2 separate regions of the Homo sapiens genome follow, and region 1 is linked to region 2. Evidence: fine-mapped expression QTL. Tissue or cell type: whole blood. Region 2 holds a variant in brackets; the other region holds the start of a gene. All regions are shown on one strand. Distances are between the middles of the regions.

What was found. PIP is the estimated chance that this variant, and not a neighbour inherited with it, causes the effect.
Region 1: it holds the start of EPPK1, and the variant in region 2 is fine-mapped to the expression of EPPK1 in whole blood (TOPMed, PIP above 0.99).

Annotation. Positions count from the first base shown.
Region 1 is chr8:143,876,480-143,881,612 of GRCh38, reverse strand. It overlaps EPPK1 (epiplakin 1), which reads left to right and starts at 3,146. Exons shown (of 2, transcript NM_031308.4): 1 at 3,146-3,175. RefSeq lists an enhancer at 1,794-2,436 and a silencer at 3,003-3,092.
Region 2 is chr8:143,928,112-143,933,429 of GRCh38, reverse strand. PLEC (plectin) reads left to right here. Exons shown (of 32, transcript NM_201384.3): 13 at 79-233; 14 at 319-637; 15 at 718-795; 16 at 869-1,030; 17 at 1,196-1,300; 18 at 1,398-1,493; 19 at 1,771-1,896; 20 at 2,894-3,046; 21 at 3,132-3,286; 22 at 3,368-3,494; 23 at 3,601-3,784; 24 at 3,859-4,016; 25 at 4,149-4,327. Among named protein-coding and RNA genes, the nearest start is that of PLEC, 8.8 kb to the left of the region's middle. RefSeq lists enhancers at 281-1,216, 4,441-4,690, 5,081-5,210 and a silencer at 4,825-4,954. The variant A/G (reference allele first, on the strand shown) is at 2,654.

The DNA of each region.
Region 1 (5,133 bases), 52 kb after region 2:
TCCCTCAGCGGCTATGAGGTGAGACCCAGCTCCAGGCTTCTCCTCGGCATCTTCTTCCTGTTATCTTCACATCATCTTCCCTTTCTGTGGGTCTTCGTCTGTGTCCGATGCCCCTTTTTGAAAGCACACCAGGCACATGGGATGAGGCCCGCCTACTCCAGCATGACCTCATCCCAACTAACCGCATCTGCAACGACCCTGCTTCCAAAGAAGGTCACATTCCCAGAGGATTTGGAGTCTGGACTTCGACGTAGGAATTTGGGGGATGGAGTTCAAGCCACAGTTGGGAGGAATCCTCTGGCCCTTCCTCTCCTGGCCCTGACCGAGCAGCATGGGGGCCTTTGGCAGGCAGAGGCTGTGCTCCTCGTGCCGGCCGGCTTCCGAGGCCTGGGCAGGAGAAGCTGGGCCAGCCCGTGTCATCACCCTGGCTGACTGGGGATGGGGGATCAGTGAGACGCACAGCGAGGAGGGTGTGGAGAAAGAGAATTTGGGATGTGGGGGGTGGTTCCGTGGGGGACAGAGGCAGCAGGGCTCCAACCCCCACCTCAGCCCTTCCCTGCCCCCGGAGGCAGCTGCATCACTGGGCTCCCCTGATGGCAGGTGTCCCCTGAGAGCCACTGGGAGAGCAGCCCATGTCTTTGCTGTGAGGGCACCCAGCCTGAGAGGAAGGCTCACCCCCAAGGCTGCCCGCCCCCTGTACCTGGGCCTGCGGTTGGAGCTGCCGGCTGCTATGTCCAGGCCCTTGGTGGAGAGGTCAGCCTGCTGCTCAGCTCTGTCCCACCCGCTCCCGCCGGGCCCTCCATCCTGCCTGCATCTGCCCTGTCTCCTCTCTGGGCCATGTGCCGTGGAGGGGACACCCTGCTCCCAGATGCTTTATGGAGCAATGGCGGGCACTCCCCTTCGAGCTGGGCCATGCCAGGCTCCAAGGGACCAATGGGGATCCTGGCCAAAGGCTCCAACCAGCACGGTGACTCCATGGAGCAGCCCAGGGGCAGCGTGGGCACTGGTCTTGGGGCTCTGGGACCTCCCTCCTTGGACCAGGTCTTCTGAGAGCCTCCCTGACCTGCAGGGGGAAGCTAGGTGCCAGTGCCAGGAGGAGGTGGGTAGAGCCGTGGGCAGTACTGGGCATGGGAGCCCTCTCGCTCACCTCCTGACACCCTCCCTGATGCCCTTCCTTGCTGTGTAGGTGGTATAGGCCCAGGCCTGGGGGCTGGAGGAGTGGCCTGTGGCTCCGGGGACTGCTGGGCTGAAGCACTGGACTGGAGCCCCTGGGGAGGTGGTGGCTCCCAGAAGCCCTGACTGGGAGTGGCCCAGGGACCTGGGGAGTAGGGCAGGCACCCAAGTCTGCCCCCAGAGGTGTCCCCAGAGGTCACTGGGCTGGGGGCCACCACAGGGCAGGGGATCTGGAGTCACAGGAAGACAAAGCCGAGGGAGAGGAGCCAGGGGACAGATGCCAGTGGGTGCAGCAGAGCAGGGCCAGCTCCATGCCACCTGCCTATACCAGGGGGGTGACGGGCAGAAATGGGTGCAGCGGAGCAGGGCCAGCTCCGTGCCACCTGCCTATACTGGAGGGGTGACGGGCAGAAATGGGTGCAGCGGAGCAGGGCCAGCTCTGTGCCACCTGCCTATACCGGAGGGGTGAGGAGCAGACAGGCATGTGGCCCGTCCCTGGGCACACAAGAAGGCTTGGTCTGGCCAGCCTAACACCCCCTTCTTGCAGCGAGGGGCTGGCATACACCCAGGTTTTGTGGCCTGGCAGGGGCGCTGCCTGCAATGGCTCACCGCAGGAAGAAGTGGCTCTGGGGTGTGCTCCAGGCCACAGGCCATAGCCAGCACCACCATGCCTCCCAGCAAGACCACACAGACAGTGTCCAGGCATCCGGTGAGCAGGGCTGGGGATGGATGCGGTTGGCCTGGCAGTGCCTTGGGGAAATGCGGGTTCCACCAGAGCTCCTCTGGGGTCAGGGCCCCGCAGTCGGCAGCAGCCATGCTGTGCGGCCAGTGTGGCAGGTGTGGACAGGGTCCAGGCAGCCTGGGTGAGCAGGTGTGAGTGTGGACCTGGTGGGTGGGTGAGAGCAGAGCCAGGGCAGTGGTCCCAAGCACCCTAACCCCTGAAGGCCTAACCTGTCCCTCCTGCACCTGCGTGGGCGCCTGCAATTACCCTCATGGTGTGCATTGGAGGTGGCTGGCTGGCTCTGGATGATTTTCTGGTCAAGAATGACTCAGGCAGAGGTGGGGGCTGGAGCTTGGGAGAAGGGGGCACTTGTGGGGGTGGGGAGCACCTGAGCCCTCAGGACCTCCAGGACTACGGGACAGAGGAGGAGGGGCCTTGGGGACAGAGGAGGAGGGGCTTTGGGCCCTGTACTTCCGTGGCCCTGCCCACCTGGGATATCGGGGCAGCCAAGGGGAGGGCCCTCCAGAAGATCCATGGAAGGTTCCCGTGCCAGGCTGAGGCTGCCCCCAGGCCAGCCCCCGAGGCTGTGAGCCTCCATGCCCAGTGTCTCTGGCATGCCCCAGCCTTGGAAGGTGGGTGCCAGGATGGGCTTCAGAGAGGGGACCAGGTACTCCCAGGGTGACAGGGAACATTCTCTGTGCCCAGGTGGAGGAGCCAGACCGGGGGGTGAGGCCTGGCACTGCTCCAGGCAGGACATCCCAGCTCTTACAACGTCATGGGGGCAGGGGGGCCTGCCAAGGAGAGCCTTGAAGACCCCTGGACCCAGCAGACACACGACGTGAAGCAGCGTCCCCAGGAAGCTGAGCAGACAAGGTGGGGTCGGGGCTGGAGGCAGGGACACCAGCCCGCACCGCATTAGTGGCTTGTGGGGATAGAAACCGCCGCTCTGGCCGGTCCGCGTTTCACTCCAAACTCCTTTCCCAAAAAAAAAAAGCTGTTCTGAAGGGCACAGGACGCCTCCGCGCCCGCCCTGCGTTCCTTCGCGGTGACTCCCTGCTGGGGACGAGGGGAGGGTCCCGGCTGCCCAGCCGCCGCCCCTTGCCCGGGGTGCAAGCGCCAGGCCCGGGCCGCGCGGGGTTTCCGGCACCTGCCCGCCCCGCCCCGCCCCGCGTCGGGGCCCCGACCTGGGCGCCGCCCTAGACGGGGGCGGGGCCTGTGGGGCTTGAAATGCGGGCGGAGCGGGCGCGCGGAGACACTGCGGACCGAGCGGCGAGCGGGCAGGTGCGGCGGGTGCGGCGGGTGCGGCGGGTGCGGCGGGTGCGGGCAGGTGCGGCGGGTGCGGGCAGGTGCGGCGGGTGCGGGTGCGGGCTCGGGGCCGGGCGGGGCGGCGGCCGCCGAAGGAAACCGGATCCCCGCTGGAGCCGCACGCCGAGGCCAGGGTAGGGGCGCGGCGGCCAGCGGGGTCTTGGGCTCTGGCCGGGCAGGTTTCCCGCCCTGGGCAATTTGAGCTCCGAGTCCGAAGTGGCGCCCCTGAGTCCCGGGCGCCGGTGAAGAGGAGGCGCCGGCCCCGAGCCCTCACGGGAGAGGCGGCCAGGGGCGGGGGTCTCGCAGGCCCAGCGGTTTTCCCTGCAGCGAGGACCGCCCGGGGCACGCTCTGCAGGGTGGGGAACGCCCAGGCCAGGAGGCAGCTAGGCCGACAAATTGAGAGGGGTGACTCCTGGCAACATTGCCGGGAGGGAGGCGTCACGGATCCGGGGAAGCTGCCTGCTGTTGGGTGAGCGGTCCCAGGGGTGGCCACTCCGGGTCAGGTAAGCGGTCACACGGTCGCCTGGAGACCCGTGGGAGGCAGAGGCAGGAAGGGCCCTGTTCATCACTTGGGCCCAGGGCTCTGCTTCCCTGCCCTGGGCCCCCGCTGCACTGTGCCAAGCTTGTTATTGGGGCCACTGATCTCTGATCATGGTGCAGGTTGCAGGTGGGTGGGGTCTTCCCACAAGGGCACACAGCCGGGCAGAAGCTAAGGCTGCTGCCTCCTGTGTGGGCCCAGGCAGCTGCCAGGGTCTGTCCTGACCTGACTCAGGCAGGCGGCTGCAGCCTCCCCAACCTTTGTCCCAGGCTGCGGTGGGGGCCTGCCGGGCAGTCTGGTGACAGACAGTGACCTCACCCAAGAGATGCAGACCCACCCTCCTCAGGAACGGCCCTCCACCACTTGGGGCCTGGGGGCCACCTGAAGTGGGGAATCCACAGGAGGGGCCCTTTGTGCCTCAGGCTCCGGGGAAATCTGCTCGGCCTCCTCCCCACCCCATCACCCTAACCCTGACCCCGTGCTCTCCTAGGCAGCAGCCACCTCCTCCAGATGCCCCCACACTCGAAGCTGCACCCCCTGCCCCCCCTCGCTCCGGACCCTCTGTCCAGCTGCCCTCCCAGGCCCCACATGGAGTCAAGACACCCACTCCCGGGCCTTCCTCCTGCCAAGCCTGGGAAGGGGCAGGGCCCAGGGAAGGGGCAGGGCCCAGAGGGGTTCATACCAGGCCCAAGGTCAGGAAGAGATAGGGAGTGGTGCAGCCAGCCACAGGCCGCATCTCACGCATGGTGCGGGGCATGCACTGGCAGGCACACTCACACACGCAGGGCAAGCCTGCCCCCGACTCCCTGCTCCCAAGCGCCCTGTCTCCAGCCTTCCTCCCTGGATCTCCTCTTTGTTTGGGGAACTTGAGCCACTTGCCTGAGCTTACGAGGCCCGCTTAGCACGCGGCCTGTCTGGGCTGGCGGCCTGTGCGCAGGTCAGGGGCCCGCCCAAGGTGCTGTCCCCACCCTCACTGGCCCTGCCCCGCCCTCGCTGGCCCTGCCCCACCCTGGCCCGCACTGCCCCTCCCCCTTGCTGGGAAATCAGGTGCTCCTCTCATTTCCTCACCGCCATCCCTGGCCGGATGTCAGGGGACAGGGCAGGGCCCTGACCCCCTAGAAGCCCCTCGTCTGGCCTGGATGCCATAGTGAGTGGCTGCCTTAGGCTCACAGATCCTGGAGGGTCCTGGAACGAGGCGTGCTGGAGAGGGCCCAGCCCTAGGGGAGGCAGGTGCCAGTAGAGGTGGACACAAAAGCGCCCAGGCTGGGTTCCCAGAAGCAGAGTCTGTCTGAGGCAGGGGTAACCGGGAGTGGTCTCAGGATGGCCTCAGGAAGGGAAGGGAGGAGGAAGCAGGTGGACGAAGGAGAAGCTGGCCTGTCCTGCCGTCTCATGTACC
Region 2 (5,318 bases):
GGTGGCCGTCTTGGCCGGGGCCCCTGTGAGGTCAGAGGGGGATCAGCTGTGCTCCGAGTCATGGCAACGACCTTGCAGGATGTCCGGCTGCTGGCTGCAGGCAAAGTGCCACAGCGGGCGGGGGAGGTGGAACGGGACTTGGACAAGGCGGATAGCATGATCCGGCTGCTCTTCAACGACGTGCAGACCCTCAAGGATGGACGGCACCCGCAGGGCGAGCAGATGTACCGCAGGTGGGCCCCGCCCTGCCCTCCCTGAAGCCCAGGTACACACGGCCCCAGGCCCGCCAACACCTACCTGAGTCCTCTGCTGCCCCAGGGTGTACCGTCTGCACGAGCGCCTGGTAGCCATCCGCACCGAGTACAACCTACGGCTGAAGGCAGGCGTGGCGGCCCCTGCAACCCAGGTGGCCCAGGTGACTCTGCAGAGTGTGCAGAGGCGCCCCGAGCTGGAGGACTCCACTCTGCGCTACCTGCAGGACCTGCTGGCCTGGGTGGAGGAGAACCAGCACCGTGTGGATGGCGCTGAGTGGGGTGTGGACCTGCCCAGCGTGGAGGCGCAGCTGGGCAGCCACCGAGGCCTGCACCAGTCCATCGAAGAATTCCGGGCCAAGATCGAGCGGGCACGGAGTGACGAGGTGGGTGGCGCTGAGCGATGGGCAGTGCGGGGGTGGGCCGGGCCCAGCCACTGCAGACCTCACCGTCTCATCTGTTGCAGGGCCAGCTCTCCCCCGCCACCCGGGGTGCCTACCGTGACTGCCTGGGTCGGCTGGACCTGCAGTACGCCAAGCTGCTGGTGAGTGGGGGCAGGGCCAGCCGGGGGAGGTGGGTAGCCCGCGGCCTGCTGACACGCACCCTCCTGCCCACAGAACTCCTCCAAGGCCCGCCTCAGGTCCCTGGAGAGCTTGCACAGCTTTGTGGCAGCCGCCACTAAGGAGCTAATGTGGCTGAATGAGAAGGAGGAGGAGGAGGTGGGCTTCGACTGGAGCGACCGCAACACCAACATGACCGCCAAGAAGGAGAGCTACTCGGTGAGCGGTGGCCCAGCTGCCCTGAACCCCACAGCCCCCTCCCCAGCTGTGCCCTGGCCGTCCCCTATGGTCAGAGACCAGTGGGGGCCCTGGGTCGAGTTTGCTGGGAGCGTGGCAGAGCCGGGTGTGGCCGGCCGTCCCTGAGACCCTTTGCTCTGGTGCCAGGCGCTGATGCGGGAGCTGGAGCTGAAGGAGAAGAAGATCAAGGAGCTCCAAAATGCTGGGGACCGGCTGCTGCGGGAGGACCACCCGGCCCGGCCCACGGTGGAGGTGGGGCTCCCTGGGTAGGGGCGGGGCTGCGGGGGGGGCCGTGCCGGGTCCCCAGGCGGGGCGGGGCGGGGCCTGACCGGGACCTGCTGTCCCGCAGTCCTTCCAGGCGGCCCTGCAGACGCAGTGGAGCTGGATGCTACAGCTGTGCTGCTGTATCGAGGCACACCTGAAGGAGAACGCTGCCTACTTTCAGGTGAGAACCGGAGCCCCCTCCGCACTGTGGCTCAGCGGCAGCCTTGCAGGAGCCCCTGGACCCCCTCGGCAGCTCCAATCAGGAGCCCTCCTGTCTGCAGACGTTGCCAGCTGCTGCCTGCAGCCTGACCGGGGCCTTGGACAGGGGTGCTCCCCAGGCCTCCTGGGGGCTTTGCCACTCCTTCCTCAGTGCCCCCGTCTTGGGCCTGCCCTGGGACAACTGTGGGCTGGGGCTCTGGTCCCAGGTAGCCTGGCGTGACCCCCTCCCGCTGCCCCAGTTCTTCTCAGATGTGCGGGAGGCCGAGGGGCAGTTGCAGAAGCTGCAGGAGGCACTGCGTAGGAAATACAGTTGTGATCGCTCCGCCACCGTCACCCGGCTGGAGGACCTGCTGCAGGATGCCCAGGTGAGGGAGGGGGTGTGCAGGGGCGTGTCAGGAGGGGCTGGCCTGGAGTCTGGGCTGCACGGGTACTCTGGAGACTAGGGGGCAACTGGAGGGGCCAGCAGGAGTTGGGAGGCACCATGGGAGGTGTAGAGGTCAGCCGAAGCGGGAATGAGGCAGGATGTTCTGGGCTGCATGGGTACTCTGGAGACTAGGGGGCAACTGGAGGGGCCAGCAGGAGTTGGGAGGCACCATGGGAGGTGTAGAGGTCAGCCAAGGGGGGAATGAGGCAGGATGTGGGGAGCCGAGAGGCAGCCGGTCCAAGCCGGGCCGCCCCCATCTCCATAGCCACAGAGTGAGTGGAAGCCTGAAGTCAGCAGCTGCCGCCAGCCCTTGTGCTGTAGAAGGGGCACCGCCAGCCCTTGTGCTATAGAAGGAGCACTGCCAGCCCTTGTACTATAGAAGGGGCACCAGCTGTTTGGCCTGAGATCTGGAGCGGGCAGAGTGGAACTGGGCTTTGTGCTCTGGGAGCAGGGGTGGGATCACCCAGGAGGGCGGGTGCACAGTGGGGAGTGACAGGGAAGAGGGACTGGAGACTGAAATGGCCTCTGAGGTCGGCAGGGCTGGGCCGGGGGGAGAGCCGGCAGCTCCCAGGTGTGTGCCGTCCTGCGGCCTGGCCCCCGCAGAGGGGTGGGATGGGAGGAGGCAGTACCTTCTGCAGCCCGCAGGGGAGGGGCAAGGGGCGAGGGCATTGTAGGGACCAGAGCGTAGCTGGGAGGAC[A/G]TGGTGGGTGAGCTGGGGTGAGAGGAGGGTGCCCTGTCTGGGTTGGGAAGGAGCGAGGGTGCATGGGTCTGCTTGGGGCCAACCCCCGGGGCCTGTCCCAGCTATACCTCCTGCTTCCAAGTGCTGCCACCCCGGGAGCATCAGGAGGGCCCCACAGGCCTGGTCCCGGGGTCTGGGGGTGCCTGGGGCAGGCCTGTGGGTCTCCATGGCCCTCGTCTGGATGCTGCCCCTCCCCCACAGGACGAGAAGGAACAGCTGAACGAGTACAAGGGCCACCTCTCAGGCCTGGCCAAGCGGGCCAAGGCCGTCGTGCAGCTGAAGCCCCGCCACCCAGCCCACCCCATGCGGGGCCGCCTGCCCCTGCTGGCCGTGTGCGACTATAAGCAGGTGGAGGTGAGCGCAGGCCGGGGGTCCACTGGGGGGCGTGGCCAGGCAGGGCAGGGTGTGGCCATGTCCTCACCGACTCTGCCCGTCCCAGGTGACTGTGCACAAGGGTGACGAGTGCCAGCTGGTGGGCCCTGCACAGCCGTCCCACTGGAAGGTGCTCAGCAGCTCCGGCAGCGAGGCCGCCGTGCCCTCCGTGTGCTTCCTGGTGCCCCCGCCCAACCAGGAGGCCCAGGAGGCCGTCACCAGGTGGGTGGCGGGGGCTCAGCAGGTGGGGGCTGGAAGGCGGGTGGGGCGCTGGTGACGCTGACTGTAGCCCTGACCTGCCAGGCTGGAGGCCCAGCACCAGGCCCTGGTCACGCTGTGGCACCAGTTGCACGTGGACATGAAGAGCCTTCTGGCCTGGCAGAGCCTTCGCCGCGACGTGCAGCTCATCCGCTCCTGGTCCCTGGCCACGGTACGCCTGCCCCCGAGCCGGGGGCTCTCTGGGTGGGAGGAGGGGAGAGGCGTTGTGCAGGGCACGGCCGCCTCGCCCGGCACTCAGCCCCACGTGCTTCCCCCAGTTCCGCACCCTGAAGCCAGAGGAGCAGCGCCAAGCCCTGCACAGCCTGGAGCTGCACTACCAGGCCTTCCTGCGGGACAGCCAGGACGCGGGCGGCTTCGGACCCGAGGACCGGCTGATGGCTGAGCGCGAGTACGGCTCCTGCAGCCACCACTACCAGCAGCTGCTGCAGAGCCTGGAACAGGGTAGGGCACGGCAGGGCTGGGGCGGTTGGGCTGGTGCGAGGTGGGCGGTGGAGTGACCCACATGTGTTCCCCAGGTGCACAGGAAGAGTCTCGCTGCCAGCGCTGCATCTCCGAGCTCAAAGACATCCGGCTGCAGCTGGAGGCCTGTGAGACGCGCACCGTGCACCGCCTGCGGCTGCCGCTGGACAAAGAGCCGGCACGGGAGTGTGCCCAGCGCATCGCCGAGCAGCAGGCAGGGGCCGTCCCCCCCCATCCAGTCCCATCCCTCTCCCCATCCCTCCTCCCACCCTCCCTCCTTTGGCCTTCAAGGGGCGCTGTGTGCTGCGCTCGGTGATGAGTGCGTTCCCACTCCCTGTCTTTGCAGAAGGCACAGGCAGAGGTGGAGGGGCTGGGCAAGGGGGTCGCCCGGCTCTCTGCCGAGGCCGAGAAGGTCTTGGCCCTACCAGAGCCATCGCCTGCGGCCCCCACGCTGCGCTCGGAGCTGGAGCTGACGCTGGGCAAGCTGGAGCAGGTCCGCAGCCTGTCTGCCATCTACCTGGAGAAGTGAGTGCACCTGGCCACAGGCGAGGGGCTGGGGTCGGCTGGGGGGTGCTGGGGTGAGGGCTGTGACCTTGCAGGAGGGTGCAGGAGGGAACGAGTTGGGGGCTGTTCAGAGATCTGGCCAGGAGGCGGGAGGCCCAGCTGGGGTGGTGGCCGCAGAGGTGGTGAGAAGAGTTCAGGGCTGGATACGCTTCGACAGTGGCGGCCGGGGGACTTCCTGGTGATGAGATTCGGGTGTGGGGAAGAGACAGTGGAGCTGGGCAGCGGCTGCTGAGTGAGGTGGGGAAGCTGTGGATCCACTTTCAGTGGCACAGTAAGGAATCCTGCACCCTGCCTCTCGTCTGTCCTGTTCCTGGCCTGGACTTAAGGGCCTCTGGCATTTATTTCCAATGTGTTATGTCATAGTCTCTTCCTGTGTTGCAAACCACAGGTCCACCCGCTGTCTACTCCTCACAGAACCAGCACAGTGATAGGGCCGCCGCCTCTTCCTGTGTTGCAAACCACAGGTCCACCCGCTGTCTACTCCTCACAGAACCAGCACAGTGATAGGGCCGCCACCTCTTCCTGTGTTGCAAACCACAGGTCCACCCGCTGTCTACTCCTCACAGAACCAGCACAGTGATAGGGCCGCCGCCTCTTCCTGTGTTGCAAACCACAGGTCCACCCGCTGTCTACTCCTCACAGAACCAGCACAGTGATAGGGCCGCCGCTGGCTACCACAGGGTGCCATTTCCACCCCGGTGTCCCCTTCGCCCAGTCTTGGGCTGCAAGGGCTGAGAACTACGCTTCCAGGCCCTGTGGGCACCAGGATGCCGCTGTCATCCAGCCAGTGGGCTCGTCCTGTCTCGGGGCCTTGGGGTCTGCCGTTCCTGGCTGGCGCACCCCCTCTCCAGGCTGGGTCCTGAGTGTCCTTGTGTTACAGAGGCTCCCAACCTCCTTCTCCCCAAGGCTGTTCTTCTCCTGAAGCAAGCCTCTGACCACAGGGTCAGCTGAC